Linked DNA regions of Homo sapiens: regions 2 and 3 are each linked to region 1. Evidence: fine-mapped expression QTL. A gene starts in region 1. Each other region holds a variant in brackets. All regions are shown on one strand. Distances are between the middles of the regions. Region 1 holds the start of FAM120AOS (family with sequence similarity 120 member A opposite strand). Region 2 overlaps FAM120A (family with sequence similarity 120 member A). Region 3 overlaps FAM120A (family with sequence similarity 120 member A).

What was found. PIP is the estimated chance that this variant, and not a neighbour inherited with it, causes the effect.
Region 2: its variant is fine-mapped to the expression of FAM120AOS in whole blood (INTERVAL, PIP above 0.99).
Region 3: its variant is fine-mapped to the expression of FAM120AOS in whole blood (TOPMed, PIP above 0.99). The same link has a PIP of 0.9 or more in blood mononuclear cells.

The regions. Positions count from the first base shown.
Region 1 is chr9:93,448,026-93,458,423 of GRCh38, reverse strand. It overlaps FAM120AOS (family with sequence similarity 120 member A opposite strand), which reads left to right and starts at 4,843. Exons shown (of 3, transcript NM_198841.4): 1 at 4,843-6,277; 2 at 7,825-7,945. The coding sequence starts at 5,715. It overlaps FAM120A (family with sequence similarity 120 member A), which reads right to left and starts at 6,739. Exons shown (of 18, transcript NM_014612.5): 1 at 6,035-6,739. The coding sequence starts at 6,508. RefSeq lists enhancers at 4,643-4,937, 5,001-5,130, 6,710-7,259 and silencers at 5,850-6,029, 6,330-6,459, 6,600-7,129.
Region 2 is chr9:93,499,236-93,509,831 of GRCh38, reverse strand. All of the region lies in intron 5 of FAM120A (family with sequence similarity 120 member A), which reads right to left. Among named protein-coding and RNA genes, the nearest start is that of FAM120AOS, 51 kb to the right of the region's middle. RefSeq lists a silencer at 772-967. The variant G/A (reference allele first, on the strand shown) is at 4,788.
Region 3 is chr9:93,472,024-93,482,619 of GRCh38, reverse strand. It overlaps FAM120A (family with sequence similarity 120 member A), which reads right to left. Exons shown (of 18, transcript NM_014612.5): 3 at 6,282-6,364. Among named protein-coding and RNA genes, the nearest start is that of FAM120AOS, 24 kb to the right of the region's middle. RefSeq lists an enhancer at 1-95. The variant G/C (reference allele first, on the strand shown) is at 5,233.

The DNA.
Region 1 (10,398 bases):
ATGGTGGTAGAGGGTGTAACTCTGAAGTGAATGATCATGAAGTTCAAGCTAGTTACAGCTAAAAAGGAAGCCAACAGAATGGGAAAAGAGAAATGGCGGAAGGCAAGCAGGGGACAGACGGTGGGAGCGGCAAGGAGTGACAGGGACACAGCGTTCAGAAGTGTTAAAGGTGGGGTCACTTTTCTCACTAATTATACGGTCCAAGCTCTGGAGTATCTAAAGTGCAATTAGAAATTCACTCCAGTTGCAGAATCAGGATGCCAGATGAGAGAGGTGAAGAGTCAGTGTCTGTGTTGATGGGACACAGTATAAATAATATATAAGAATGTAAAACCAGGTGCTGAAGTGTTTGAGGACAGTGAGGCTGTGCCTTGGAAATGGTGAGATGTCAAATAAACATGTGGGTTAGCACTCACCTCAAAATATGTAATATTGAGAAGTATATAATGAAGAATATACTATGGAAGTGGCCAAGAGGATTGTGGCATTTAAGGAAACATCATATTGCAGTAACCCCAGGAAATGGAAGCATTTTGATCATTGAAAAAGGTTCAAGGAGGCAGACAGGAAAAGACAGAGTGGTTTTTGATAGGTTTAATTTTAAAGTAAAAAAAAAAAAAAGGAAGAGATTTAGATGACCATGATAATTGTTGATAAAGATCAGTGCTCAAATAACAAATTGGTGGCACAAGAGCTGAAGCTAACTTAGAACCAAGTTTTCCTTCGCTTGGCATTTTTAAAATGGAATAATTTTTTTAAAAATCTGGGTTTCTGGCTTTCTTGCAAAGTCTGAAGTTCTGGTAATGTTGACTCTATGGTCCTACGTGGCTTTTAAAATGTGCATACCTTTAGCTCTACTGTGTGTATATATCATGTGTATACCATCTGTCGGGGTTGGATAAATTATGGAATACTATTTAGGGACTGAAAAGACTTAGAGCTCTAAGTATAGACATGGAAAGATTTCTTACAAATAAAAAAGCAAACTGCTGAATAACGTATAGTGCAATCACATTAATGTGAAAAAATGGAACTATATTATAATAATATATATTATATAACTTATGACATAAAATATATGGCCTACACAGCCACTGTGGAAAATATATGGCCATTCCTTAAAAAGAAAAACAGAATTACCATATGACCCAGCAATCCTACTTCTGAGTATATACCCAAAAGAACTGAAAGCAGGAACTCGAACAGCTCTTTGTATACTATGCTCATAGAAGCATTATTCATTATTCCCAATAGTCAAAAAGTGGAAGCAACCCAAGTATCCACCAGTGGATGAATGGATAAACAAAATGTGGTACATATACACAGTGGAGTATTACTTAGCCTTAAAAGTTAAGGAAATTCTGACACAATCTACAACATGAAAGAAGCTTGAAGACATTATGCTATGTGAATTAAACTAGTGACAAAAGTAGTACAACAGAGAAATATATACAGTGACTAGTTTGAGGTATAATATGGTCAGTTTTGAACCTTAAAAATCTTCCAGTCAATTAAAGGTCCTTAAGAATAAGATGTACTGTCAGTGTCCAGGATCTACTGATGGACATTTTTCTTCTGAATAGCAACATGACTGTTCCTATCCTAACTAGAAAACATAGCTGAAGCAGTTAGCTATCGTAATTGACCTGGGGGTGAGAATTGTAGGTAGGCACACCCACAAAGTATTCTTACACAAAGAAGCTGAACTTTGACTTTAGCACTCCACTTCCGTCTTGAGGTTACTAATGACTTGTCCCCAGATGTCACTTAATCACTAGATCCTGTTTTTACACATGAAAAATGGGGTAACAAAGCACTCTGAGGATTAAATGAGATGGAATATGTGAGAAAGGATCTAGCAAGCACCTGGTCTGATACCAGTTCATTCTCTTCCCCCATCAAGTATACATGAAGGGAGACCATCATCTCTAAATACAAACATGTAATTATGCTAACCATGAAAATTCTAAACCATAGTCTAACCTCACATTCTTCCACTGACTTATAGCATGAACGCCATTTTATGTAAGAGCATTATTTAACAAAATTCCAATGGAAGCAAATTCAGAAGATCTGAAGGACTTTATTATAAACCCTTACACTGATACCACAAGTCATATAGCAGAAACATTTATGAAAGCTCCAGTGACTTCATGCCACTAAGATTTTAAAATAAACATAAGTCATTCACTGAAGTTTCAAAGGTTATAATGACCCAAGGCACACAAGAAGAAACACTGTCCAAGTAACTAGCTAAAGCCAAGTTCAAATTAGGCTATTTTAGGACCTACACAAAACTAGTCAATACATAGGCCAAAGTATTATTATTTTCATTGTTCTGGCTGTCTTTCCATGTAGACCAACTTCTAATGGTTAAAGAAATACAATTACTACTACTGAACAAAAAAATACAATTACTACTCTGTAAAAGAAATAATCTCTAAATCAAAAAAGATTTCTCCTGGCCAGGCGCAGTGGCTCACGCCCGTAATCCCAGCACTTTGGGAGGCCGAGGCAGGTGGATCACGAGGTCAGGAGCTCAAGACCAGCCTGGCCAAGATGGTGAAACCCCGCCTCTACTAAAAATACAAAGATTAGCCAGGCATGATGGCAGGCGCCTATAATCCCAGCTACTAGGGAGGCTGAGGTAGGAGAATCGCTTGAACCCAGGAGGTGGAGGTTGCAGTGAGCCGAGATCGCGCCACTGCACTCCAGCCTGAGAGACAGAGTGAGACTCCATCTCAAAAAAAAAAAAGATTTCTCTAAGCAAAGGTAACAGGAAATTATGCCCCTCTGCCAATTTACAAAACACTAGAAAGCACCAATAAGATGCTTAAAGTTTTTATAAATGTCTCATTTACTCAACATTATATATACTGAATTGTTCATGTCAATTCCTTTGCCAGTGGTTTTTACTTAATCTTAAAAAAATTATCATATGATAAAATTAACACATTTACTTTGGATGAATAGTTCTGATTTTAATGTATGGTAGCATCACCACCATCAGAATACAGAACAGTTCCATCACTCCACAAAGATCTCTCCTGCTGTCCCCTTTATGTGTACATCCTTCCCCTCCTCTACTCTCAGCACCACTGAATTGGTCCCTATCACTATAGTTTTATAATCATCCCTTTTGAACCTGGCTTCTTTCACTCAGTATAAAACCTTAATTAAATATTCATGCAAGTTGTTACCTACACCAGCAATTCCTTCCTTATTATTGCTAAGTAGTATTCCATAGTATGGCTATACTGTAGTTTAACCATTCACTTATTAAAGGATACTTTGTTTCCACGTTTGGGCTATTATGAATTAAGCTGCTATGGACATTTGAGTACCAGTTTTTGCACAAACAAAAGTCTTCATTAGGAAAATACCCAGGAGTGGAATTGCTGGATCGTATGATAAATGTATGTTTAACTTTATAAGAAAGTGCCACTGTTTTCTGGAGTGGTGGTGCCATTCTGCATTCCCACAAGCAATGTGTAAGGATCCAGTTGCTCAGCATTCTTGCTAGCACTTGGTATTGCTCATATTTTTTTCTCTTTTAGCCATTCTAATAGGCATGTAGTGATATCATGGTTTTAAACGTTTTAACCACTTTATGGGTATCTTTTATTAAATGGTATACACTGTTTCAATCCCTTAAACAGAGAATGCTGAATATTAATTTTTATGACTCAAAATCATCCTTATAGAATAAACATTGTACTACCCTCAGGGACCAAGGAAGTACATAGGGTTGTTTTCCTTTTCTTAAAATAGCCCCAGAATTATGTTTGCTTTTTATAGCTTTTTAAATCTCTCTTGTCACTTCTTGCTATTAATGGTGCTCCTGCCTCTGGCAGACTCTCCTCTTCATCCTCTTCTCAAGCTGAGTTTAGAAAATAGATAACCAAGCTTGTTAGAATTACATATGAAAAGAGGCCAGTCCATGAGTGAGAGAGCTTAAAGGATTCTTCAGTGAGGAAAGCAAAAGCACCCCCCTACACCCGCCAACCCCCCACATCACTGTACCCAAACTTCCTGACATCTTGCTTGGTTGCTGAGAAATTTCTAGTAGCTAAATCTCTTAGGCACTTTTCAAAAAGGTAAGGTTGCCAGCTAAGAGACCACCAAGTAATTGAGTTATTACAATATTCATTTTGTGCAATTCGCACTATAATATGACCCTAGGTCAATAATTAAAAGCTTAGCAAAAGCAAAATACAGACAAAATTATCCCATTATCCCGTGTCCAGAAACCTAAGTGAAAAAGACGATCTTAAATGGAGCTTAAATCTAGTTTCCTAACACTGACACATTGGTCTGAATTCTGAGCACCTACTAGGTGTGCGAGGCATTCAAAGGGGTGCAAAGATAAAGAAACTGTAGAATTAAAAAGAACTCAACAGTTCTTTAAAGATACAGTGACCATATGCATACATACTGATTCTAATCCTAAGTAATATTCACAGTGTTCCCTTGAAAGTCGCTTGACTAGTTAAGTAGAGAGCTGTGCGGTTACCAAAGGCAAGTCAGTGCAGCTCATCCTGTCTTTTAAGTAGTCTTTTCCATCTCTGAACAAGACTAAACTATGAACACTTTTACGCTCTATTAGGGAGATGGATCGCTTCAGACAAATGGCAGCACCTTACTTCCCTGAGCGCCCCAGGCTCCGATTCAGAAATTAAAAGGCAGGCACTTCCTCTCACCCGAACTTCCCTGAGGAATGGCAGCTGTGTGTCTGCCAGGCGCAGGGGCCAATCGGGACTCTGCCGGCCGCCTCCACCCACGACTTAAACACCATCTCACCAATTGCAACCGGATCGTGGGTGGGACTTCCGCTATCATTTTAGGCTTAACTACCACCATCTCCTCGCGGGCAGTGGGGGCAACCGCGAAGACAGAATTTCACAAACTTTCAGCTCCAGCAGTTTCAAGGAAATGTCAAATGACAAGATGGAAGACCGAGTGTCAAGAGCTAAGACAACAAAAAGGCCCCCAAAATTTGTTTTCAAGAAAACCAATGAAAAAAGCAAGCAATCAGAACGTGAAGTCCAGGATCATGGATGTGCTTATCTTCACAGTCACTGCTGGGTCCTGAAGTTCTCCTCTGGCCCAGTGCCAGCTGCGAAGCCCTCTGCCAAAGGGCCAGAGGAGGCCGGTGATATAGAGCTCTGATTACCCACCCGTCAGGGCACCGCTGAAGGTCACTGAATACTTACTGTGCACCCGAAAAATAAATCCTGCGAGTTCACGCCCGCGTAGTTCGCCCCCTGATTTTGAGCGACTCCTTTCGCATGGGATCTACAAAACCGAACTGCCTTAAAGACCTCTTTCACACGGACGTGAAGTCACAGAACTGACAAAATCCCATCCTGTCAAAGTGCACGGGTCTTTGAAATCTAACACAAAAAGCCATAGAAAGATTCTCTAAACACCCTGTACTAAGAGGAACACGGACAGGGCACTGCGTTCTGAAGTAGAGGCCAGGGCACTGGCCCTTAGACACGTCTCGCTGTCACCGGGCTAACAACATTGGCAAGGGCGGCGGCAGCAGCACTGATATTTGCAGCCCCCAAGGGCTCTGGCGAAACCCCCTCTATTACTCTGTATCCTGCCTGCTTCCAAGATGAACCTGTTGCTGGGAAAGAACAGGCTAAATTAGAAAAGGGAGTATTTTGTCAAAGTTGAAGGTGAGTGATAGCCTGCCCGCCTCAAATAGGATGGGAAAAACTAAGGATATTGGGGATGATGACACTGTCGCCTCCGAATTCTGGTCCGGGGCTCTCTCCCAGCCCTCAAGTGTCCCCACGCGGCCGCGGACCCCGAACAGGGACAGCTGGAGACGGGCTTGGGCAGCGCGCGGCCTGCACCCGCGGCCATCCATCTTGCAGCCCGGCCCGGCCAGGCTATCCCGGGCAAGGGCTGGGGGAACTCGCTGCCCCCAGCGCCGCCACGGCCGGGCGACATTCTGCGCCCTGGGAAGGGGGATAGGGGTGCGGCGCGGCCCCGGTCCCCGGCCCGCCCGGATCCCCGGCCTCACCTTGACGTGGAAGCGGATGAGCGCCAGGCGGATGCAGTGGGCCATGCAGACGGGCGGCAGGAACCAGACCTTTGGCGGCGGGGTGCCCTTGTTCTGGACATGGCTGACGATCTGCTGTGCCGTCTGGCGCTCGTTGCCCTGCCGCTTGACCCACTCGTGCAGCCGGGCCTTCTCGAGCGCGCCGTTGAAGAAGACGAAGAGCTCGATGTTGCCGCCGAAGCAGGCCTTGGCCAGCGCCGCCAGGTAGCCAAGCATGTGGTTCCACTGGCCGCCGCTGACCCAGTCGGTGTAGAAGCCGCCGTAGAGGCGGTGCAGGCAGTTGTCGGCGTCCACCAGCAGGCGCAGCGGGGTCTGCGGGGGCCGCTGCCGCCCGCCGCCCACCAGGCTGCCCCGGGCCAGCTTCTGCAGCTCCACCGGCACCACGGCGCTCGGGCAGTGCTTCTCGATGTAGTCCTGGAAGCCCTGCACGCCCATGGCGGCGGCGGGGGCGCGGGCGCGGGTGCGGGCGGGGGGCGGCGGGGCCGGGGGTGGTGGGGCCGTGGCGCGCGGGCGGGCTGGCGGGCGGGGGCGGCGGCCTCTAGGGGGGACTGGGGCGGGTCGGGGGCGCGCTCATGGCCGCCGCGGCCGCCATGTGCTGCCGCCTCCCAGGGCCATGTCTGGGGAGGGACCTGCCGCCGCCGCCGCTGCCGCCGCTGCGAGGCCGAGGCCGAGGCCGAGGCTGAGGGCCGGGGCGGGGCGGGCGGGCGGCGCTGACGTAGCGGACCCGCCCGGCGCGGACGCCGCCCAGGCCCGCCGGCTAGCAGGCGGAAGAGGCGGCGCCGGCGGGACGCGGCTCGGGGCTCCCGGAGGCGGCGGCGGAGGCGGAGGCCCGGAGTTGGGCCGGGACGGGATCCGGGAGGCTTCTGAGCCGGAGCAGGCAGCGCCTGGAGGCCAGAGGCCGTTCGCCCGCCTCAGGCCGGTCGGCCGCCGCTCCCCTCCCCTGCGCCCTGTTCCCGGCAGGGCCAGAGAGGCCGCCGCCTCCGCCCGGTGGTTCTCGGGCGAAGGGAAGCCGCGAAGCAGGTCCTGGGGAAGAGCTCGCCTGCTCCTGAGGGAAGCAGCGATAAGATGGCGCTTTGAAGGGGAGCCGAGGCCGAGTCACTCTGTTCGTCGGGACGCCGCCTTTCTAACGCCGCCGTCGGCTCGCACCACTCTGGGCCTGCTGCCCACACTGACTGCGGGGTCCGGGAGAGCGGGATGCTGGCCGGCCGCGCCTGGCTTCTTGGAAAGAGCAGGAAGGAGCGCGAGAATGCAGTTCCGCGGCAGGTGCTCATCCCAGCAGCTTCGGGCTCTCGGTTGTGGTTTTTACACCTATGACAAATGACATGGCCAAACACACCATAATGTCTGAAGGTACAGGTAGCCCTAAGCGCCTGCTCGTCACGGAAGAGACTGTCTTGAGAGCACAGGTCTGTTGCAGCGTGGGAAAGCCTGCGTTACCACTGCGCAATGGCTAGACTGAAACGTGCGCCTTTGCAGTGGATCTCCCAGCTCTTCTGAGGGAGAGGGATTTGAATCTTGTTGCTTTAGTAGCATCTTCTGGAAGGAGGTCGTTTACGTAAATTCTGTTCCAAAGCTCTGTCGTAACTGCTTCTAAAATGAGGTTGATACTGTATGTATATTAGGCTTGCATAAAACATTTTCAAAAAGAGATTAATGTCTTTCAGAATATAAATTTAGAAACCCAGCACTCTAAAAGTTTTAAAGTGCCGCTTTTACTTACCTTCATCTCTCCATTTGTTCTTTTTTTGGAGAAACCTCTGTAGAGGAGCAGGATGCAACCGACAGGCTGTGGCCGGACAGCTGCTGCCCAGCACATGGAGCCTGCACGCGCACGGTTTGGCCAAAGAAGCCCCCATACTCCCGGTGAAAAAGGCAAGTTGGATTTTTCTGCTTTCTTTTCTGATACCCACCTCAAATGCAAGCCAGTATCATACGTACATAAATTAAATGCTGCTGGTATTTTAGGAAGTTACATTTAAAAGCAGGCTGACAAGTTATGCCACTCACCTATGCATAAAATTAGTCACAAAGCCAGGATGACATGTTATCTAAAAATAATACAGGCCAGGTGCGGTGGCTCACGCCTGTAATCCCAGCATTTTGGGAGGCCGAGGCGGGTGAATCATTTGAGATCAGGAGTTCGAGACCAGCCTGGCCAACATGGTGAAACCCCGTCTCTACTAAAAATGCAAAAATTAGGCGGGCCTGGTGGTGTGTGCGCCTGTAATCCCAGCTACTTGGGAGGCTGAGGCAGGAGAATTGGTTGAACCCGGGAGGCGGAGGTTGCAGTCAGCGGAGATGGCACCACTGCACTCTCTAGCCTGGGCAAAAAGCGAGATTCCGTCTCAAAAATAAATAAATAAATAAAAGAAATAATACAGTTAGCCATTAAATAACGAGCAAAATCCAGAAATATCCAAATTTGCTTTTATAACCCAAGGCAGGTTCACAAGGTGAGGAGTAGTAGTTTTTAATCACTCGTATTTTCATTTGTAGCATTGCATTCCGTGTATTTACCTTTTCTTTAAACACTCTTGCTTTTAATTTTTAAAAATGCATTAGTGCGGCCGGGCGTGGTGGCTCACGCCTGTAATCCCAGCACGTTGGGAGGCCGAGGCGGGCAGATCACGAGGTCAAGAGATGGAGACCATCCTAGCCAACATGGTAAAACCCCATCTCTACTAAAAACACAAAAATTAGCCGAGCGTGGTGGTGCGCACCTGTAGTCCCAGCTACTCGGGAGGCTGAGGCAGGAGAATTGCTTGAACCTGGGAGGTGGAGGTTGCAGTGATCACGCCACTGCACTCCAGACTGGCAACAGAGCGAGGCTCCATCTCAAAAAAAAAAAAAAAAAAAAATGCCAGTGCCAGTATCTGGAATTCTGGAAATAAATTTATTTTCACCTTATTATATTGTAGAGGTCTAAGGTTCTGGAGTCAGGCCCCCAATATCCATCTTATGATAAGTCTGTGCCCTTGCAAAAATATTTACCTTATTGAACCTTGGATTTTATCATCTGTAAAATCAACATATTAATAGTACTTAACCTCCCAGGTTGTTATAAGGATTAAATCAGATAACCTGTGTGCCTGCCACACAACAAATGCTCAATAAATGTTGGCTTTTGTAGTTATTTCCAGAAACTGTATTTGTCTAGACTTATACTCGAGAACATAGACCAGTTATTGTACTTTTGGAAAGTTTAAAATTCATTATTGTATCATAACACATAAAACTCAATTCTTAGTTGCCCTATTTAGCTTTGTGTTCTTTAAAAAAAAAAAAAAAAAACTTTATTTATTGAGTAGCTATTGATGGTGGGCAAAATGTTTAGCTGACAAACACTTATATACTCTGCATCCTTAACTCAAATTCAGGGGTTGGTTGAAGTTAAATTGCTTAAATATTGAGGTAAAAATAAACATCTGGGCCGGGCGCAGTGGCTCACGCCTGTAATCCCAGCACTTTGGGAGGCTGAGGTGGGCGGATCACAAGGTCAGGAAATCCAGACCATCCTGGCTAACACGGTGAAACTCCGTCTCTACTAAAAAAAATACAAAAAAAAATTAGCCGGGCGTGGTGGCAGGCGCCTATAGTCCCAGCTACTCAGGAGGCTGAGGCAGGAGAATGGCGTGAACCCAGGAGGCGGAGCTTGCAGTGAGCCGAGATCACGCCACTGCATTCTAGCCTGGGCAACAGAGCGAGACTCCATCTTAAAAATAAAAAATAAAAAATAAACATCTGTATTTAAAATTTAATAAAAAGTTATGTCTTCTTGGAGGTTACAATATGACAACTAATGGTTGGGGACTTTTTCTTTTTTTATTTTGTATTTATTTTATTTATTTTTTCTCCCCCAAGATGGAGTCTTGCTCTGTTGCCCAGGCTGGAGTACAATGATGTGTTCTCAGCTCACTGCAACCTCCCTCTCCCAGGTTCAAGTGATCTCCTGCCTCAGCCTCTGGAGTAGCTGGGATTACAGGTACACACCATCACACCTGGCTAAGTTTTGTATTTTTAGTAGAGACGGGGTTTCACCATGTTGGCCAGGCCAGTCTCGAACTCCTGACTTCAAGTGATCCACTTGCCTCTGCCTCCCAAAGTGCAGGGATTACAGGCATGAGCTACCGCGCCCAGCCTAATATCATTAATTAATATTTTACTTAGGTGAGGTATCTAACCACCAACAATAACAGATGAGTTTCCAGTTTTTCAAACAAGGTAATAAGAGACCTTAATGCTGCCCATGTAATCATTAGCAGATGTTGGGAGACCAGCAGACTGGAGCTAAGCAGGGAGTCTGCGATCATGGAAGAGAGCAAATT
Region 2 (10,596 bases), 51 kb before region 1:
CATCTCTTTTTTATTAAAAGACTGATCTGAAGCACAGGTTGCCATTTGTATAACCTGAAGTAGGTACGCCACCACTCATTCTACTGTTTCTTCTATTTTTTGTTAACAGTTTTTCATCACAACAACAACAAAACTTTAGTAAAAATCTAAGAAAGGGCAAGTCTAGTAAGCAAAGCTACAGGACAAAGTGAGGATTTAATATAACATTTTTAAGGAATATCAAATTTTTAAGGTTATTAGTAAAATACTGCAATAGTATAATATTGAATACCTCATGAAAATAAAATTTTTTTAAAAATCATTATAGTAGCAAAAAACTAAACACGTTCTTGACAACGACAGCAGAGACATGGCTAAATTACATAGCACCTCCACATTGCAGAGTACCAGACCATCTCTGGAGAAAATAAGAAAGTCATCACCAGCTTCTATAATGGGCCCCACTTACGGCTCATAGCCCCCAGGCTTGGTCAGTCCCAACCCCCGAGGCCATCCATGCTCCCTGCTGAGCCCACTCCTCTGCAGGAGGCCCCAGGCACTCCACTTCTGCCCTGACCACAACAGGACAGGAGGGCCACTGGGTGGGTCCAGGTGGGTCCAGCCATCCAGCTGTCAGCCAGGCATGGCCTGGGGCAGTGTGGGCCACCATGTGGTCTCTTTCACATTTCCACTCTTTCTGCCCTAGAGGACCTGCCTCTATCCTTTGGTCCTTTTGCTAGAGCACTCAGCTGACTCAGGCAGGTTACACTACAGATTTCTCACCAGAGCCTGCAGTGGGCTCTGTTCAGACCTCCAGGGTCTGAGTGGCATGCCATTGAGTTCCCTGGAGGCTGAACACCTTTTCTCCGCAGCTTAGGATCAGTCATCTGGCATTTAAAATCATTCTTTACATATTGTCTTTCCAACTTCCGAGTGGGATATTTTCTCATGTTCTCAGATTCTGGGGGGTATGTTATTGGAGAGAGATCGTGTGTATTTTCAAAATAACTGTTAACACTATCTATTGAGCAATGCGACACTGGGATCAGGGCTGTGGTGACACATATGAAGTAGGGCTGTTTATTCTATGGAAAAGTCAGGGGAGCAGCAGGACACACAGACCTCATGCAGCACAGGAGCCCCTCTCAGTCAGGATGGAGTGATGCCCAAGAGCAAAGCAGGGGCAGGATCCCCATGGCCAGAGCCCAGAACACCAGCCCCAGGACCAACCCAGCTTCTCCCTCAGGTTTGTCACAAGTAACTTTCACAACATGAATTCCCTCTCCTGGGCAGGCTGCCTGAGCTGGAGGTAGCAGTGCCCACCCCAGGCCACTCAGCCTGCTGTCTCCTAGGTCTGCATCCAGGTCAGTCACTGGGCGTTGCAGGAAGGTGATCCCTCAGACACAGTCTGGTCTGGTAGAATGTGACCAGCCTTGGGGACCTGTCAGGGCACAGGCTGACCACAGGCTCCTGTCCCAATGAAACACACCACGGGGCCCTTCCCAAGCACCTGGCAGCTGCTACACCCAGAGGTCACTGTGTTGCTGTGACCAGGACCAGGTTGCTCATCACTGTGTAGCATCTGTTCTTTGCTTAGTACTGATTAGCACCTTTTTCAACATGGTCCTATTTGCAAATTTCTTCTCTGACACACAGCAGCCTGGCTGCTCTACACATATGCCCTCAGTCTACTCACTCTGTGACCTCCCCATGCTGCTTAGTGGAGGCTAGACTTTCAAAAGACCAGGTAGCAGGAGGCTGTCTGCTATGAGAGATCAAGCTCCCCTACCTTCACTGTAAAACCACATGTGCACCAAAACCACTCCCTTCTGTATCTTTAACCCCTCTCTCTCAGTAGTCATCATCCCCATAACAACTTCAACCTGTTCAATTCTCCCCTGCATTTCAAAGCCCCACCCCTTTATGGAAATGACTGGAGAGAGGCGTGGTACTTGCCACCCATCCTATCCTCTTCTACGAATTTCTATACTGAGGAAGAAGGAAAGCTAAAAATGACTTTTCCTAGGATCCACTGCCTCTTATTGAGGGCCAACCAATTGTACATACACAAGGTTTGGGAGCTCCAAATTCAGCCGAAGCCTGCCCTGAGTGGTCCTACTGACACTCCATCTATCAGGCAGCGCCCTCATCTTGCCCAACCTCTCAGAACTCAGCGCTGCTAACAACTGTGCACAGGGTATCTCCCCTGGCCTCGCTGAGCCACTCTTTCTGTGCACCCACCTCCTGCATCTGGCCCCAGGGGCGCCATCTCTTTATCCTCCGCTTCCACCACCACAGCTCCTCTCAGCATTACACACCAGCAAAGCTGCAACCCATGACTCCAGCTTAGCTCCTCACTCTGCTTTCACCTGTGCATTCTAATGCCTGTTTCCCATCTCCACCGGGATCCTAGAAGGCGCCTCAACATTCGTATCCAAAACCATCCTCCAAATCTGCTCTTCCTCCAACCATCTTTATCTCATTAATGGCATCCTCACCTGAGCTGCTCAAGCCAAAACTCTGGGAGCCATTTCCCCCGAATTCTTTTCATTGAGCTTCTATAATCAAGCATCAATATCTACTATCTACTTATTCCATCTCCCAAAAACCTATGAAATCCACCCAGCACTCCTGCCTCCCACAGAGGAGAACTTGCCCCAGGGACTGCAACCATGCCTTGCCTCAATACTGAAAGAGTTTCCCACTCCTTTCCCTATACCTGCCCTTGCCCACTCTGATCCCCTCTGCACACTGAGGCCCAAGCAATTCAAATGCACACCTCAGCACACCACTCCCAGATTAAAACTCTTTCATGAGGATATTTCTTTAACATGGAAAAGGTAGAGGAGATAATGCTAAGGGTTAAGATGACAAGACATCAGACTCCCCCTTAAGATCAAGGGCTAGACAAGAACAGTCACCATCGCACCTTCTATTAAAAATCGTGCCCCGGCCAGGTGTGGTAGCTCACACCTGTCCATTTGTGGACAGCACTTTGGGAGGCCGAGGTGGGCAGATCATGAGGTCAGGAGTTCGAGATCAGCCTGGCTAACACAGTGAAACCCCGTCTCTACTAAAAATACAAAAATTAGCCGGGCATGGTGGCAGGCACCTGTAATCCCAGCTACTCGGGAGGCTGAGGCAGGAGAATTGCTTGAACCCAGGAGGTGGAGGTTGCAGTGAGCTGAGATTGTATCACTGCACTCCAGTCTGGGCGACAGAGCGAGACTCCATCTTGAAAACAAAAAAAAAAGAAGAAAAAAAAAAATCATGCCCTAAGTCACAGCTGGCTCAGTGGATCAGGAAGATCAAAAAGATACTAGAGGAGACACAATCAGCCAAAGCAAGATACAAATAAACTATGAAAATTAATAAGAACTGAGCAAAGTTGTTAAGATAAAATCAACTTACAGTATTAATTTGAAAATATAAGACACACATAGAAATAGCACCCAAAAATAAATATTTAGCAATATCTCTAAGAAAAGATGTTATGAATGCTTAATGAAGAAAATTCAAGTTTACGGAAAGATATTCAGGACAATTCAAATCAATAAAGAAATGTAACATTTTCTTTAGTACACTCAATAATAAAGATTTTATTCTTTCCAAATTGATCTACAGAGTTGGTGTAATTCCAATCAAAATCTCCACAAGGATCATAAAATGTACATAAAAGTGAAAAGGATCAAGAACAGTCTCGACCTCTTGCAGAAATATTACATGGGCAGATTTCCCCAATCAGACATCAAGTATTATTACAAGGCTATGGCAACTAGAACGGCATAATCCTGTGGCATGAAGATAATCAGAAATTCAACAGAACTGAGCCCAGAAACAGACCCACACACGGAGACACTCAACATGTCAGAAGAGGATAGCATTCTCAGTGGACAATACTAAGGCAACAGGTTCTCCACACGGTGAACAAGAAACTGAATTCCCTCACTCAAAAACCATAAACAAAATTCAGTGCCAGGTAGTATCAAAGGGCAAAATCATAAATAAAACTTTTAGAAGACAAAGTGTTTATCACCTCAGGCTAGGGAGGAATTCTTCCTTTATGTTTTCTTTTTCTCCTTCTCATGTAACACTTTAAACAAACACAAGAAAAAAGGGAACTGTACAATAAGCCACACATATCTATCAACCACCCTCAAAATTAACCAGCACACAGCCTATTGCGTGTCATCTGCACTTCCACCCTTCTTTGCCCACTACTGCATTATTGTGAAGCAAATCTCAGACATGACATCATTTCATCCATAAATACAGGATAGGACTTAAAGGTACAAACAACAAAGGGAAAAATTCATGTATTTGACATTAAGAACTCTGATATCAAAGCACATCATGAAGACAGAAAAATGCAAGCCACAGATTGGAAGATTATTATTTGCAGTCCATTTATCTGACTAGCATCCAATATATATATTAAGTATCCCTATGAATAAGCAAAAAGAAAAACAACCCAACAGAAACACAAGCGAACAGGCCGGGCGCAGTGGCTCACGCCTGTAATCCCAGCATTTCGGGAGGCCGAGGCGGGCGGATCACGAGGTCAGGAGATTGAGACCATCTTGGCTAGCATTGTGAAACCCCATCTCTACTAAAAATACAAAAAATTAGCCAGGCGTGGTGGCGAGTGCCTGTAGTCCCAGCTACTCGGGAAGCTGAGGCAGGAGAATGGTGTGAACCTGGGAGGCGGAGCTTGCAGTGAGCCGAGATTGCGCCACTGCACTCCAGCCTGGGTGACAGAGCGAGACTCCTTCTCAAAAAAAAAAAAAAAAAAAAAAAAAAACACAAGC[G/A]AACAACATGAACAAGCATTTCACAATAGAGGAAACCCTACTGGCCCATAAACATAAAGATTCTCAACCTCATTAGTAATCAGGGAAATGCAACTGAAACCTTTACAGGATATAGTTTCATAATCACTAGACCAAAAAATAATAAAACGTGGAGCAATGAGAGGGTTCTTTCACTTCTGCCAGGAGAATAAATAGGTGTATCCGTGTCCGGCAGCAGCAGAGGCTTGAACAGGGCCCTACCCTGGAGGTTCCCTGGAATTCCACTCCTGGGCACATCAGGTCACATGAAACAATGTTCACAAGTGCGCTATCCATCATGGCAAGCAGCTGGAAACAGTCCATTTTCCATCAACAGTAGAATGGACAAATATATATTAATACAATGGAATGCTGCACAGCATTAAAAAATGAACTATGCCAACATGAATGAAACACAATAATATAAATATTAAGAAGGCAAGTCAGAGGAGTACATGCTATATGATTTTATTTCATAACAAACAAAATGAAACTATTTAGTATCCAGACATACAGACACGATAAAATTATATAGAGAAGCACAGAATAACTAATACAAAATTGAGGGTGGTAGAGAGTCGAGGAATGCAACCAGCGAAGACATATAAGAGGGCTAAGATATTAGTAATGTTCTAAGACTAACACATTGTAGTATGATAGTTACAAAATCATTTTTTTTACAGGTAAAAATTATTCCATGAGCTTTCACGTTCTAAGAATAAAGTCTAAAATCCAAGGTGGTGCCTGGCAACTGCACTGCCGCTCTCAGCATCACCTGACCACTCTCCCCGCTTTCTGTGCTTCAACCACATTCTTCTTATTTTTCTTCTTCACTATGTCCTCCTAACTCAGGACCTCTCACATGCCACCTCCCCTGCATGGAATACACTTCTTCCCATATTGGCACCTTGCTAGATGCCTGAACCCCCAAACCCCACTCAACAATAATCTAATCAATCAGAACCAGCCATTTTAATCGTAGATTGATTCAATCAGGTTGGTCTTCCTTGAGGTTCCTGTTCTCTTTCCTGCAGGATTCCCTGGTGTTCACTTCCCCACTATACATTCATCTGTAGGGGCAACGGTAACTCCTCTCTTATTTACCACACCATTCAGCACCCAGCACACTGCCTGTCATGAAATGCACAAATCAACGAGCTCTTTACTTTAAAATATATATATATATACTTTTTTTTTTGAGCAGTTTCAAGGTTACAAAAATCTTGAGCAGAGTACACACTTCGCATTGGTGTGACACATTTGTTCCAACCAATGAGCCAAACCTGGCTACATTATGATTACCTAATGCCCACAGTTGGCATTAGGGTTCACTCTTGGTGCTGTACGTATTCTGGATATGGCTAGAAGTATAATGCCATGTATCCACCGTTACAGTATCATACAGAATAGTTTCACTGCCCCAAAAATCTGCCTAATCATCCCTCCCTCCCCACAACCTCTGGCAACCCTTGATCTTTTTCCTGCCTCCATACTTTTGGCCTTTTCCAGATGTCCTATAGTTGGAATCGCACAGTATGTAGCCTTTTCTGATTGGCTTCTTTCACTTAGTGATATGTACTTATGTTCCTCTGCATCTTTTCATGGCTTGATAGCGCATTGCTTTTTAGTGTTGATTATTTCATTGCTTAGATACACCAAACTTTATTTCCCTGTTGACCTACTGAAGACATATTGGTAGCCTCCAAGCGTTGGCTATTATGAATAAAGTTGCTTTAAATATCTGTGTGCAGGTTTTTGCGTAGACATAAGTTTTCAACTCCTTTGGGCAAACACCAACAAGCATGACTTGGGAATTTTGTAAATATCTGCGAAGCTGTCTTCCAAAGTCGCTGTACCATTTTTGCAATCCCATTAGCAGCACAATCTGTTGCTACCCATCCTCACCAGCATTTAGTGTTGTTGGTGTTTTCTATGTTAATCATTCTAACAAATGTGTAATTAAAATGTGTAGTAGGAGCCCATTTACTTTTCACTAAGGAAGGCCAATGACACAGTGGCTACTTCTTCAGCCTCAATTTCACCTGCACACGGGATCTGTGCCCATAGATTCCACATCCACAGATCTGAGGTGAGACCTCAGTGTTAGTTGTGTTACTTGTTACTTTAGTAAATTCCACCAATGATTTTGAAGCAACTGGTTTAACTAGGGAACTAAATATTTTGAAATCTCAACTATCACATATCTTATTTGTGCTTGCATTTAGATTGGTGATTTCGTGGAGAGCTATAGCAGATTTTACATGCTGAGACAGAAAGAACAAATCACAACCATTTCCAGATAGGCAGGTCCTCGCTTAGTAATTATGACATAGTGAATGCTTAAAAATAAGTATGCATCTCACCACCACTTATTTTCAAAATCATCTCAAAATACACAATTTCTGGGAGACTATATTGCAAGTGTGCGTGTGTGTGTGTGTGTGTGTGTGTGTGTGTGTGTATGTGTCCTCCTAAGAACTCTACACTACCCAATAACTGTTTAGAGATCTGAGGTATTTTTCTCAATATTGCAGATAGATTTACAGGCTTACAAAGAAAGGCACAGAGGATGAGTTGTGGTTCCTAAAAGCCAGGCCAACTGGTACCTAGCTAGGAACATTCCTTTTTAAAAAATATAAATTCCTAAGGCCCAATTAAGATGCTAAAATAGCAGTTTTGAGGTGGAATCTAAAATTCCAGCCAAGTTTAGAAACCTCTGGTTAGATCAACTCACCCCATGTTTTTCCCCTATAGCCATGCTCTCTAAGCTTATAATATGATTACCCTAAAATTTCTTCAAAACTCTACACATATTCCAATTTCTGAATGATTAATAAGATAAATTCTAATACAACAAGAAACTAATATCCCCACATTGGTTCTTCAAAATTCTGAATTATTTTCCTGTAGAATAATATAATGGACTGTGGTTGGATTCTATGACAGATCACCAAAGACCACTTAGGACCTATCTACTACTTATAAAAATATTTCTGTGGAAAATACATCATGGGTTCTAACTTGAGTTGCCAGAAAGGGTCCCACCGACTCCATGTTGTTCCTTCTAGACTTTCAACTTAGGTTCCAGTCTTCGCCCTGTTAGTTTCACTGGTAGGATCCCAGTAGTATGCAGGGGTAAAAATCAATGACAGCTAATGTAATTTATGTTTCTTCAGAGTTATCAGAAAAAAACTAAAGTTATTTTTACAAGAATCCATTTCTGCTAGTTCCAAATCATGTGTATGCAGCTTGAAACAAAACGTCCTTCCCAATCTTGCCTGAAGCCTCTCTCCAGGCTTGTCTCCTGCCATTCCAGACTGCATACCCGTCATCTTAAAATTCTACACTGCCCAAACTTCCTGCCTGGCTGTCATTCTGTGCCTGTACTTTTGTTAGTCCCTCCGCATACAACCCTCATTTCTGCAACAGCCAGAAGCATCAGGGAATGCTGTACAGGAGGATTTACAGGCAGTTCATGCCTACCCTAAGCTGCCTCAAACTATCATCCCAAGCATCCCAAACTCTACCAGTTACTTTGCTGTTCTCCATAAACCACCGAGTAGTGAAAATGAAAGTGAAACTAAATTCTGAGTAAACTTCACCTCTAAAATACTCACCTAAAATCTTAATAATTTGATAAGAACACAAAAGCACTTGACAGAACATATTTTTAAGATATTCAAACTTAACTCACCTTGCCTATTCAAAACATCTTCATAATTATGAGCCCAGATCAATGCCAAATATTAAGTGTGCTGCCTTTCTCTATACTTATCTTCCTAATTTTCTCCTAAGTAGATTTTCCAGTCCCAAGTACACTCTAAGGACTTTCTAAACTACACCTGCCATACAGACTGTCCCACAGGAGCACAATGTCAGTGAAACACAGGAGACTGCCGGCCCCACCTCTGAGCGCTCCTTCAGGCTCCTCACTGCTCATTCCAATGCCCAATCATTCAGTGCCTGTTGAGGCCATTCTGCCAATGAGAAGAATAATGACAGTATCTACTATCAGACAGTATCTGTTATTCTTATAGGCAGAATTACCTAAAAGGGCATTGAATGACTGAACAAGTACTTCACTAAAGCACCTTACATACGCCTTCTCTTTTAATATTCACATAATGACCCCATTCTATAAAATAGGGAGCTCGAGGTCAGGAGGCAGTAGGCCACAGGTGGCAATGTTCATGCTCCCCATCATTCCCACAAGCAATTATTAGACATCTTCTGTGTGCAGGGTATACAGTAGACACACTGAGATCTGGTCCCATAATGCCTCACCTTAACTGATGAAACAGTATACAGCTAGTCTCCCTCCTGCTGATGCTCTGTGCCCCCTTTTCCAAAAATAATCCTAAAACACATCTCACCACTTCACTCTCTTGATTTAAAAACCAAGTGGATCAATTCATTCAGTCAAATATTTATCCACTGGGGATATAAAAGTAAAGGTGACTAATAGGCCCTCATTACCCTAGACTTTACATTGTGGGGAGTGACGGGGGAAGGGGTGGTGGTGGTGACAAATAGAAGCCAAGGAGTGTGCAGAGATTTAAAGCCAGGCAGACCTTGGAGAACACGACAGCCTGGATCTCACAAATCAGAAGGGCACAAACACAAGCTGGTCAGAGAAAGGAGCCCTCCAGGCACAAAAGCCGGCCCAGAGGCCCAGGGCAGAAGCTAGCTTGGTTCATGCAAGGCAAGAAAGGAGGCTGCGCTCAGGAGTGAGAAGCCAGCAGTCTCAGATGATGGGGAGGAAGCAAGGTAAGTAGTTGGGAATTTATTCCAAGTGTGACGGGAAGCCAATGGGGAATTCTGAGCATGGGAGTAGCACAGTCCAACTGCCATTTTTAAACATTACTTTGGCTGCTGGGAAGAAAATGGATTGCAGGGGAGCAAGAGAGCAGCAAAGAGCCCCACTGGGAGGCTGCTGCCATTTACTGACCTCGCAGTGGAGATTCAGCCACTCCATGCCCATCTCCAGGTTACAAGCCCTACCTCCTTTATTACAGGGCATCGGCACAGGCCATGTTTCCCTGTCCACCACCCAGCCACATACATAGGCAGCCAAAGCCAGTGCCATGCCTCTGATCTCCAATGCCCAGTTCCTAGCATACAGCAGACACTATGCTTGAATAAATGAAGGGTGCAGCTCTTAAGGCCACTTTCAATCTTGGAATTAGTCTTCTCAAATAAATACAAAGTCTCCTTCCAGTAAGAGTCTCTTGAACATGCAATCATTCTTTTGTTAACTTAGATGAAGCAAACAACACAATTTAAATGAGAGTTGGGGTCTATTTCTCATACTTCTACTTACAGTTTAGTGCTTTATAACCTCCACAAGACGTTCAATATGAAGCAGGCTTCAGGCTAACAGCTTATAAATATTTTTATTTCCCAATTTCAAATCTCTGAATTAACTTTTGGTCTTTTGCAGGCTGAACGTGGTGGCTCATGCCTGTAATCCCAGCATTTTGGGAGGCTGAGATGGGCAGATCGCTTGAGGCTAGGAGTTCGAGACAAGTCTGGCCAACATGGTGAAACCCCATCTCTACTAAAAATACAAAAATTAGCTGGGCATGGTGGCGCATGCCTGTAATCCCAGCTACTTAGGAGGCTGGGGCACAAAAATCACTTGAGCCTGGGAGGTAGAGGTTGCAGTGAGCCGAGGTCACACTACTGCACTCCAGCCTGGGCGACAGTGCAATACTCTGCTCAACAACAAAAAAGAATTAAAAAAAAAAAAAGGCAGGGGTCAAGAAAAGAGAGACTACAAATACACTGCATT
Region 3 (10,596 bases), 24 kb before region 1:
TCAGAGCCAGACCCAACTGCTGGCCCTAAAGGACATGTTTTAAAAGTACCACTCAATGACTTCTGGTTGAAGACAATAAGATATAAAAAATATAGTTAAAGATACCCCTGGGAAAAATTCGAGGTGAATGGCCAGGCACAGTGGCTCACGCCTATAATCTTAGCACTTTGGCAGGCTGAGGCAGGCGGATTGCGTGAGCTCAGGGGTTTGACACCAGCCTGGGCAACAAGGTGAAATCCCGTCTCTACTAAAATACAAAAAATTAGCTGGATGTGGCAACAGCGTGTACCTGTAGTCCCAGCTACTAGGTAGGCTGAGGCAGGAGAATTGCTTGAACTCGGGAGGCAGAGGCTGCAGTGAGCTGAGATCGCACCACTGCACTCCAACCTGGGCAAGGGAGCAAAACTCCGTCTCCCAAAAAAAAAAAAAAAAAAATGGAGGTGAATCTAAAAGTTTTCTTGATACAGCCTGATAGATTGCCCCCGGTATACGGGTGCCTCAGGGAAAGATAATGCTGGTAAAAGATTACCAAAATAAGTGAATCAGAGTGGTAAGGTGATAAATACACAAAGACATTTAAATCAAAAGGAAGAAATGCCAGGGCTAGGAATTAGAGGGAGCTCCTAAGATGATGTAGAAGAAAGCAAGAAGAGTACTTTAGGGGAAGCTCCAAGAGAGGATCATACAGAGAAGATGGCGTTCCATGAATGAGGGTGCAGCCTGGCCCAGGACCCAGCCTGGCCCTAGGATAACCAGCTGATGGGGTCAGAAAGGGCTGGGGGAGGACAAGTACTTCTAGGGGAGGCTCACCATGCAGAAAAGGGGTCTTTCAAAAAGACTGGGAACTGCAGTGTAAACAGAGTAAAACCGACTAAACCTAACTAGAAAGTAGAACTGCTGGTAGTGAAGTCTCAGGAAAGGATCAGTCCATATAAAATCTGCAAGCTGGGGTGTCCCAGACAAGGAGGCAAAAGGAGCTCGAAGGGCTCAGTGGTTGGGAATACTTGGCCATCACAAACAACTGGCATGGATGGAAACTCAAAATATATGAAATTGAATATGAAGTTAAGGAACACAAAAACCACTAAAATGAATACAATGACCTGAAACTAAACAGGTCCAACTTAAATGTTATTATACCCAAATACGAGGTCAATAGGATGTAGAACACCCAAGTGACAAAAAGCCTTCTGTAAAGTGTTTAAAAACCCAAGATTCAAGAAAACCAGAGGCAACAAGAAACATGTTTTTTTAAAAAAATAAAGCCAGCAAACATCTATAAAACATTTTTAAAAATTAAAACAACAAAATGCCCACCCAAAATAAAAAATTCCCGTAACCAGTTAGGACACAAAATCATACAATTTTTAAAACCCCAAAAGTCACATTTTGAAAAACTGCTCACTTAGCACATGTCTACAGCCAGGGGGCCCTGCCCAGGGTGGACTGCCACAGCCGCAGGCCGCCTCTGATGAGTACAGGCCACACCAGCTATGCAGGGCACCCACAGGCTCACTAAACCTTATGTCCAGGCAGACCGAATGGCCAGCCACTCCCAGGGCACAGGAGGAGGCAGGCATGGGGGCACCACCTGAAGGGAAACAGAGGCTGGGCTTGGGACTGGAGCCCATGCTCTGCAGGCTCAGCTCTCTGGGTACCAGGCTGCCTGACGCCTTCCATTTCTCTCATGCAACACTGCCAGCCACACTAAAACCATGAAAGGAGCACAGCGGCCCAGAGCAACACAAACAGTGGGAGCCTCTTCGAAAGACCAATATGCATCCAGCCCACTTTTCATTACTGTAAATACAATCACAAATCTTCCTAATTATAACACTGAGTCCAAAAACACATTGAAAGGATATTCAATGTATTTTCCTTATTAAAGATATGACCCTTTTAAGAAATATTGCCATTGGAAAAAGTTTAAATGAGCGAGGAAATGAGATGCACTCCTGGAATGCCTTCCCCATTGTTTGGGAGGCATTCCAGGAGTGTATCTCAACTCTTCCAGGTACATAAAAGATTCTCTTATGTTTCCAATCAAACAGAGTAACTTACTTAGAGCAAAGTAAGATAAACGCAGCCTCAGGCTTGGGTGTCTGTGCAGCCCTGGGGTTTTACCCATCCTGGCCCAGCCTGCTCTGTATCATCTGCTGCCAGGCTCCCTGTTCTGCAGGACCTGGGCCTGGGTAGAGACAGAGGTCGCACTCCAGCCCAGCCTCCAGGCATCTCCGGGACTGCAGCAAGGAATCCCAACAGCAGGTCTCCCGAGGAATAGGGAGTAACACATAACTCTTGTTTTCTTTCTCTCATTATAGAATTGACCACATCTTAGAAGCTATCTGACCCCTAACCCCATCCTACAATTTTACATGTTACATGAAATGGCCCAAGTGTTCTGAACATAAATGAAGTAGTCTTTGCATCTAAACCTAAGAAATTCAATGCCCACCTTACTAGCAGCTCTTAAGGTTACCATTGAGGTATGAAGAAGTCACCTTACATCCTATTTCCTACTGTCTTCTACCAATTTTAGGTTCTGAGTATGTCTAACATTGCATTCATAATCTAGTAATAAGCACGATCTACTACTAACTAATAAGGCAGGACAAAACAGAATTTGGCTCCCATCCTAGCTTTCCTCTCTGCAGATATTACCCAATGATTTAACAGTTGTTCTCCCTTGTGCTTCTGAGCCCGCAGAGCCCCAAAGCAGACGTGCTATTCTTTCAACACAACCAGGGCTGTGGACAGTCAGGGAGGACTTCACAATTTCTAACTGATGTAGCTGGTTCGATGACAGTCAGAGAGTTAAAAATTTACAGTGAATGAATGAATGCATGTAGTGAAATTGGTAAAGACACATGTTTAAAAGATGAGTCTAAGGATGCTACTTATAAAGAAAACAAAAATTCATAGTGCTGCCAACATACTGAAGATTTGGAATCACATAAATTATCGACTACTGATGACTTCCTATCCATGGTATTTTGTGATTTTCATCAGATGGTAAAAAGATGAAATTTTCTCATGATTTTTATTGGTTCCCTTTCTAACAGAGTATACTGGAAAAATAGCTGTTAAGGACACGTGACTTTGCATCCTCAAGCTTAAGCCTCCTTGGTCCATCCCTTTTATCATATTATATTTGTACTATTTTGCCAAAGCCAAATTTATTATTGTTCACAGAGGGCTGGTGTTCTATGAAGTTAATATCTAATCAATTCAAAGCACCTCTTAAAATGCAATACCCTACTTTGGGAGGCCGAGGCGGGCGGATCACGAGGTCAGGAGATCGAGACCATCCCAGCTAAAACGGTGAAACCCCGTCTCTACTAAAAATACAAAAAATTAGCCGGGCGTAGTGGCGGGCGCCTGTAGTCCCAGCTACTTGGGAGGCTGAGGCAGGAGAATGGCATGAAACCGGGAGGCGGAGCTTGCAGTGAGCCGAGATCCCGCCACTGCACTCCAGCCTGGGCGACAGAGCGAGACTCCGTCTCAAAAAAAAAAAAAAAAAAAAAAAAAATGCAATACCCTAATCTTAAACCTCTCATCATTTCAACATAATACAAAAACACAAAGAATATTTCAGAAAATAAAACTCAGAATATTATGGAAGATATGTAACAACTATCCAAATTTTCAAAAGATGCAATTGGTTTTACAACTGGGGAAAAACAAAGAGACTAAAATAGCAGGTGGGATACATACAATTCTGTAGCACATCCATCAGTCATGCTCATGGGGAGTAAAACCACATCCAATTTCCCCTATGTATATTAAAATCACTGAAATGGTGCTGCATACAAAAATGTGAATGAAGGGTCAAAACATTAAAGTGAGCCGGGTGCTGTGGCTCACACCTATAATCCCAGCACTTTGGGAGGCCAAGGTGGGTGGATCACCTGAGGTCAGGTGTTCGAGACGAATATGGACAACATGGTGAAACCCTGCCTCTACTAAAAACACAAAAATTAGCTGGCGTGGTGGCAGGCGCCTGTAATCCCAGCTACTTGGAAGGCTGAGGCAGGAGAATCACTTGAACCCTGGAGGCAGAGGTTGCAGTGAGCCGAGATCTCACCCCTGTACTCCATCCTGGGTGACAGAGCAAGACTCTGTCTCAAATAAAAACATTAAAGTGGCTAACAAATGCAATTTCTGAACTTATCTCAAAACCAGGTGCACTTGCATTTCATGTGTGACTTTAAAATCCTACAACGTATCAAGTCATCTGAAAAATAATTTAGGATTTCTTCTCCAATATGCCATAAAAGTACTCAGCTAATATCAAAATGCATGCATAAAGCTTGACTGGATCTCGATCAAAAAAAAAAAAACCTATAAATGACTCTGAAAAAATTTGAATATGGGCTTAATATTAAATGATATTAGACACTGCACTCCAGCACAGGTGACAGAGCAAGACCCTGTCTCAAAAAAAAAGATATTAAAGAATTATTAATTTAGTTGATGTCATAGGAGTAATATGATAAAGTATCAAAATGTCCTTATTTTTAGGAAGTGATGGAGCAAGCTGAAGTGGTGGAGCAAGCTGACATTTTCATGGGTAAAGTGTCATATCTGCAACTTACTTCCAAATAGTTTTTGTTAAACAAAACAAAACACAGACATATACTTTATGGCAAAATGTTTATAATTGTTGAACCAAGATGGGGGATATACGGATACACATTTCTCTATTCTTTCCACATTTCAATACTTAAAGATTTTCTCAACAAAATTTAGGAAAAACACACATATAATGATGTTATTCACTTGGCAATAGATTGAGCTGGTTTTCCAATAATTCTTCAAACAGCTCTTCACTTCTAACCCTGTGACATATGAAGCAGGGCTAGTTTAACTTAGACATACACATATAGCCAGAAACCTTGGGAGTATCTCACTCCTGCTCTTCAAAACAAAATAAATCTTGTAGGAAACAAGCTTTCATTTGTGTCTCACTTACAAAAGCATAATGCTTAACAGAGCTACTGAGCACAGGTGCAGTGCTCTTAAGTCCAGCTGATTACACGCTGCATTTCCCCAATCCACATTTCAATCATGGCATCACCAGAAGCTTAGAGTCCGAATGACAGATCACATCACTTCATTCATGAAAACATACAGGAGGGATTCTATGGCCAGAAATGTAATTTCTAACAAGAGAAGAAAAACTAATTTTTGAACAAGAAGTTGAAAACAGTCCATACCAAACCCCATTAGGGT[G/C]AAAAGGAGAACATTTTATAGCATGCCAGAGATGAAAAAGAAAAAGCATGCCAGAGATGAAACAGCAGGGAACAAAATGAAAGGAGGAAAGGAATTCTACTTCAGCTTTTGGGTATCACCAGAGTTAAAGGTAAATTAAAATGTAGGAAGAAAAACTCCCATTTGAAACTAGCCACCAATTAAAATTGTTTATGGAGGGAGGGTAATTACGACAACATTCAAAATTTTACAGCCCTTCGGAAAACACCCAATTTAACCGCCACTCTTTACTGTAAGGAAGCAGTCCCAGGGTGGGAAGCAGATACAAAGTCTAGGTCCCCATCTTCCTAATTCCCCAAGTCAAGAAAGGCACTTGAACTGACAAATGATCATTACAATCACAGGAGTCACTAACAAGTCCAAGCTGAAGTTTTCCAGTGCCTCGTGCATATCTCACTCATTACTCCTATGCTCACATCAAACACAGACACTTCCACTGCAGAAAATCAGAATTAAGTGCCTCATCTCTGATGTTTATTACTATCACAAACAGGAAGGGAATCAAAAGGGAGAAAAAGAATATTAAGTTTTAATAAAATAGTACAAATGGATCACTTCCATTTGAGTCTCCCTCATCATCCAAAAAGCTTTATAAACTATTTTATAATTGTAGAAAATTAGTTATGAAATTTATCAACTATGCAAAGATGTTGCTCTAAGTGACAAGTAACTATACTACCTAAAGACAAAATTAAAATTTTTAAGTAAGAAAATTAATATATAAAACATCAGCTCAAAGATTTCCTTCTATCTAGGTACACAGCACAAAGAATTCCTTAAGGGAAATTTTCAAGGACATTTATACATTTACCTAACATATAGGTGTTGAGAACAAGGGATGGTAGCATTGTTGCTTGCTTTTTAAGGCAGTGCAGATCCTGAAATTATGGGAAAACATGGTATTGCTAACTTTGTAGCATCACCAATAAAGGGCCTAACATGTTATTAAAGTAATAGCAAACTCACAGTTGATTATTACAAATGCTAGAAAAATAAAGTGAAATTTGTACCTTTAGTGAGGCTAGTGGATGTTCTGGACCAAGTAAACTCCAGTGAAAGGAAGCCAGATCTTCATCAGGCAGAATGTGATTTCCTGGAATATAAACATGGATAACATAAAAGCAATCATCTTAAGTAACATAGGGAAACTTTCAAAAGTGCTGCATATTGTCACCTATAGTAGAAAACTTTCAAACAGAAACTGAGAACAAATCTTCATCTCTTAACATAAAGCGACATACAGCAGGCAGAATCTTTGCAGCTGCTTCAAGAATGACGGGAATTTCTAGTGCAGTCCCAACAGCATTCAACCTAAGAACTGCATAAAACTGAAACAACTTCACAGCACAGTATTAAAAATAAACACCAGTTTGCAAAAGGTCAGTCTGACAATGTCAGGATATCAAATACCAATTAGATTCAAGTTTTCATTTGTTCATGAAATGACTATGGTTCAAGCTTTCATCTGTTCATGAAATAGCTACGGTTCAAAATTACATAAAAACACCAAATGTGAAATCTGCACAATTATAAAACCTTTCTTAGCAAGATTAAATGACAATGACTGCTGATTGTAACATGAATCAACACCCTTCTCCCATAATTTCCATCACCACCCACAAACATATGTGAAAAGGCCCATCCTACAGTAATACTCATGAGGCCATTAAGCTGCTCATCCTATCACCAGTGCTGTCACAGTCTACAAACAAAACTGTATTCAATTGAGAAACTATATTTGGGGGTAATACTCTACTTTCATAATAATGTTCGTATGCCTGGTATACCTGATCTTTAGTAGGTTAGCTATCTCATTGAAATCTCAAAGCAGTAATTTCCTAAATAACCATGATTTTTATAACATTACTTAATCACCTCCACATTATGATAGCAAATTCATTAATTTGCTACTAACAGAATGCAACACAAACTAAGACCATTTGGAATATTGCTACGTTATAATATAGGTTGAGCATCCGTAGTCCAAAATGATGTAAAGTCTGTAAAATCTGATGTAAAATCTGAAACTTTTTCAACATCAACATGATGCAAGTGGAAAATTCCACACCTGTGCTCATAAGATGGGTCACAGTCAAAAGGCGGTCAAAATGTTGTTTCCTGCACAAAATTATTTAAAATGTTTTACAAAATTACCTTTAAACTATGTGTATAAGGTATATATGAAACATAAATGACTTTCATGCTGACTTGGGTCCCATCTTTAAGATACTTCATTAGGCATATGCAAATACTCTAAAATACTTCTGGTCCTAAGCATTTCAGATAAGGGACACTCCACCTGTATTCCAAACACACAAACACACAAGCCAGAGGTACTGAACTCCCGTGATGTCCAAATGAGCAAATCTGAACCGTAACTGCTCAGGTTTGCTGGCTTGATATTGTTTTCCCGTTAATGGATTGCATAGAATTTCACGGTGAAGAATGAAGTGTCTGGCCGGGCACGGTGGCTCACACCTATAATCCCAGCACTTTGGGAAGCCAAGGTGGGCGGATCATGAGGTCAGGAGATCGAGACCATCCTGGCTAACACGGTGAAACCCCATCTCTACTAAAAATACAAAAAATTAGCAGGGAGTGGTGGCGGTTGCCTGTAGTCCCAGCTACTCGGGAGGCTGAGGTGGGAGAATGGTGTGAACCTGGGAGGCGGAGCTTGCAGTGAGGCGAGATCATGCCACTGCACTCCAGCCTGGGCGACAGAGCAAGACTCTGTCTCAAAAAACAAACAAACAAAAAAAGAACGAAGTGTCCGAAATTTTGGAAGCTTCAATTCGAAATAATATTAAGGCAACTCCAACATTAGTAACAGTCCCTGTGAAAAATTGGGGGGTGAAATACTTAAATGAATATTCCAACATTCCTAAAACAAAATACTTTATATAGCTATACTTTCCATTACAGAAGGGAAAAGAAAAATAAGCTTTCTCATTTGAGCACAGTGAAACTTTTCCAGCCTGGCCAACGTGGTGAAAATTAGCCAGGTGCGGTGGCACACACCTGTAATCCCAGCTACTCGGGAGGCTGAGGCATGAGAATCGCTTGAACCTGGGAGACAGAGGTTGCAGTGAGCCAAGATCGCACCACTGCACTCCAGCCTAGGCAACAGAGAGAGACTCCATCTCAAAAAACAACAACAACAACAACAACAACAAAAACTTAGGAGCTTACCTATAACTTCACTAAACTTTTTGAAGAGATTGCAAGCCCTAAATTAAATTGACAACATATTGCAATTGATTTTTTCATTTATTTCAAAACTTCACAAACTAACAAGCTAGAAAAGTATCAGTTGGCATCATCTTCCAAATACCATATTCAATGTTTCTTAAACAAGATAAACAAGTATTCTTCCATTTTTCAAATGAGCTAAGGCATCCATATTCTAAGAGCATATGATTTTCACATTCAAAGTCAATTAATATGCCAAGTTATTTTACATAGCATTTAAGCAAACATGGAACTTTCCATATAATGTGCCACCCCCATACTCACTTTTAACATCAGAGGAAATATCCTTTTATATTTTAATATTTGAAAATATATTTAAAAGATTCGTTTTAATCCCCAAATCCCCAAAGGCACAAGAGTTCCCTTACTAAGCACTGTATTTGAGATTAGATCCAAACAAACACAAGTTGTGAAATCACAATTTTGTTGACTGACTCATATAGTAAAACATGAAATGCTTTCACAAAATAACATATAAAAAATTATGTGGCCAGGCGCAATGGCTCATGCCTGTAATCCCAGCACTTTGGGAGGCTCAGGCAGGTGGATCGCCCTGAGCTCAGGAGTTGGAGACCGGCCTGGCCAACATGATGAAACCCTGTCTCAACCAAAAACACACAAAAAACTTTAGCCGGATGTGGTGGCATGCACCTGTAGTCCCAACTACTTGGGAAGTTGAGATGGGAGGATCACTTGAGCCTGGGAGGTGGAGGTTGCAGTGAGCCGAGATTGCACCACTGCACTCCACTCTAGGCAACAGAGTAAAAACCTGTTTCAACAACAAAAAAAGGCTGGGCGCGGTAGCTCACACCTGTAATCCCAGCAAAGACAGAGGTGGGTGGATTGCTTGAGCTCAGGAGTTCAAGACCAGCCTGGCCAACATGGTGAAACCCTGTCTCTACTAAAAATATAAAAATTAACCGGGCGTGGTGGTGGGCGCCTGTAATCCCAGCTTTCAGGAGGCTGAGGCATGAGAACTGCTTGAACCATGCAGGTGGAGGTTGCAGTGACCCAAGATCACACTACTGTACTCCAGCCTGGGCAACAAAGCAAGACTCCATTTAAAAAAAAAAAAAATTGTCCAAAGATATCTTAACGATGAAAACTTGAAAAGCATAGCCTCTGCAGCCCATGGGCTGGCAGTTTGCTGATCTTTTAAAGTTAATCTTTCCCTGCCCAGTCCCCATTTTCTGGTAAGGTTTCTAGGAGGTCTGTTGGTATACATCCTACAACTTATTGACTTAAAATGTACTCTCCTTTGAGACCGATTGGGAGAAATAGAAATCAATAGCGCAATCGTTTTGATACTGAATATTGAAAAGTGTCTCTTTGAAATAAAGAACCAGTCCCTCCAAAAAAATAAAAATAAATTGTGACTCCTTACAATTTCTAGTTGTGTAAAACTGTTTTGGAATGTTTATAAAAATCTTTCTGATAACTAGGCATTTCTAAAAATAATCCACAATATAATCCCCTCTTGAACAGGACTGGATTGGACTGCTAGCCTCTATAGAATATATACTGCAAGGGAGCACAGTAACTGAGCACTAGAGACCACACAGCTTCCCAAACTGGCCTTGTGTGTCCAAAACAGCCCCAAATCCCATCAGATTCATGGATTCTAATCACAGGAGTGCCTCCCTCCAAAACATGTTTACTTATATTTGGACACAATTCTTATAAACTAAGTAAACTAGAGCTGGATATTAAAGTAGGGTGAGACAAGCACAATGAAAGCATAAGAAAGGGTAGCTGACAAAAGAGCAAAGAAAGAAAACACACAATGCAAATATAAAGTGACAGACAAATATATTACTTCTTGGGAATTTTTTTTTTTTTGGAGACAAAGTCTCACTCTGTCTCCCAGGCTGGAGTGCAGTGGCACGATCTTGGATCACTGCAACCTCCACCTCCCTGGTTCAAGCCATTCTTGTGCCTCAGCCTCCCAAGTAGCTAGGATTATAGGCGCCCACCACCATGCCCGGCTAATTTTTGTATTTTTAGTAAATACAGGGTTTCACCATGTTGGCCAGGCTGGTCTCAAACTCCTGACCTCAGGTGAGCTGCCCACCTTGG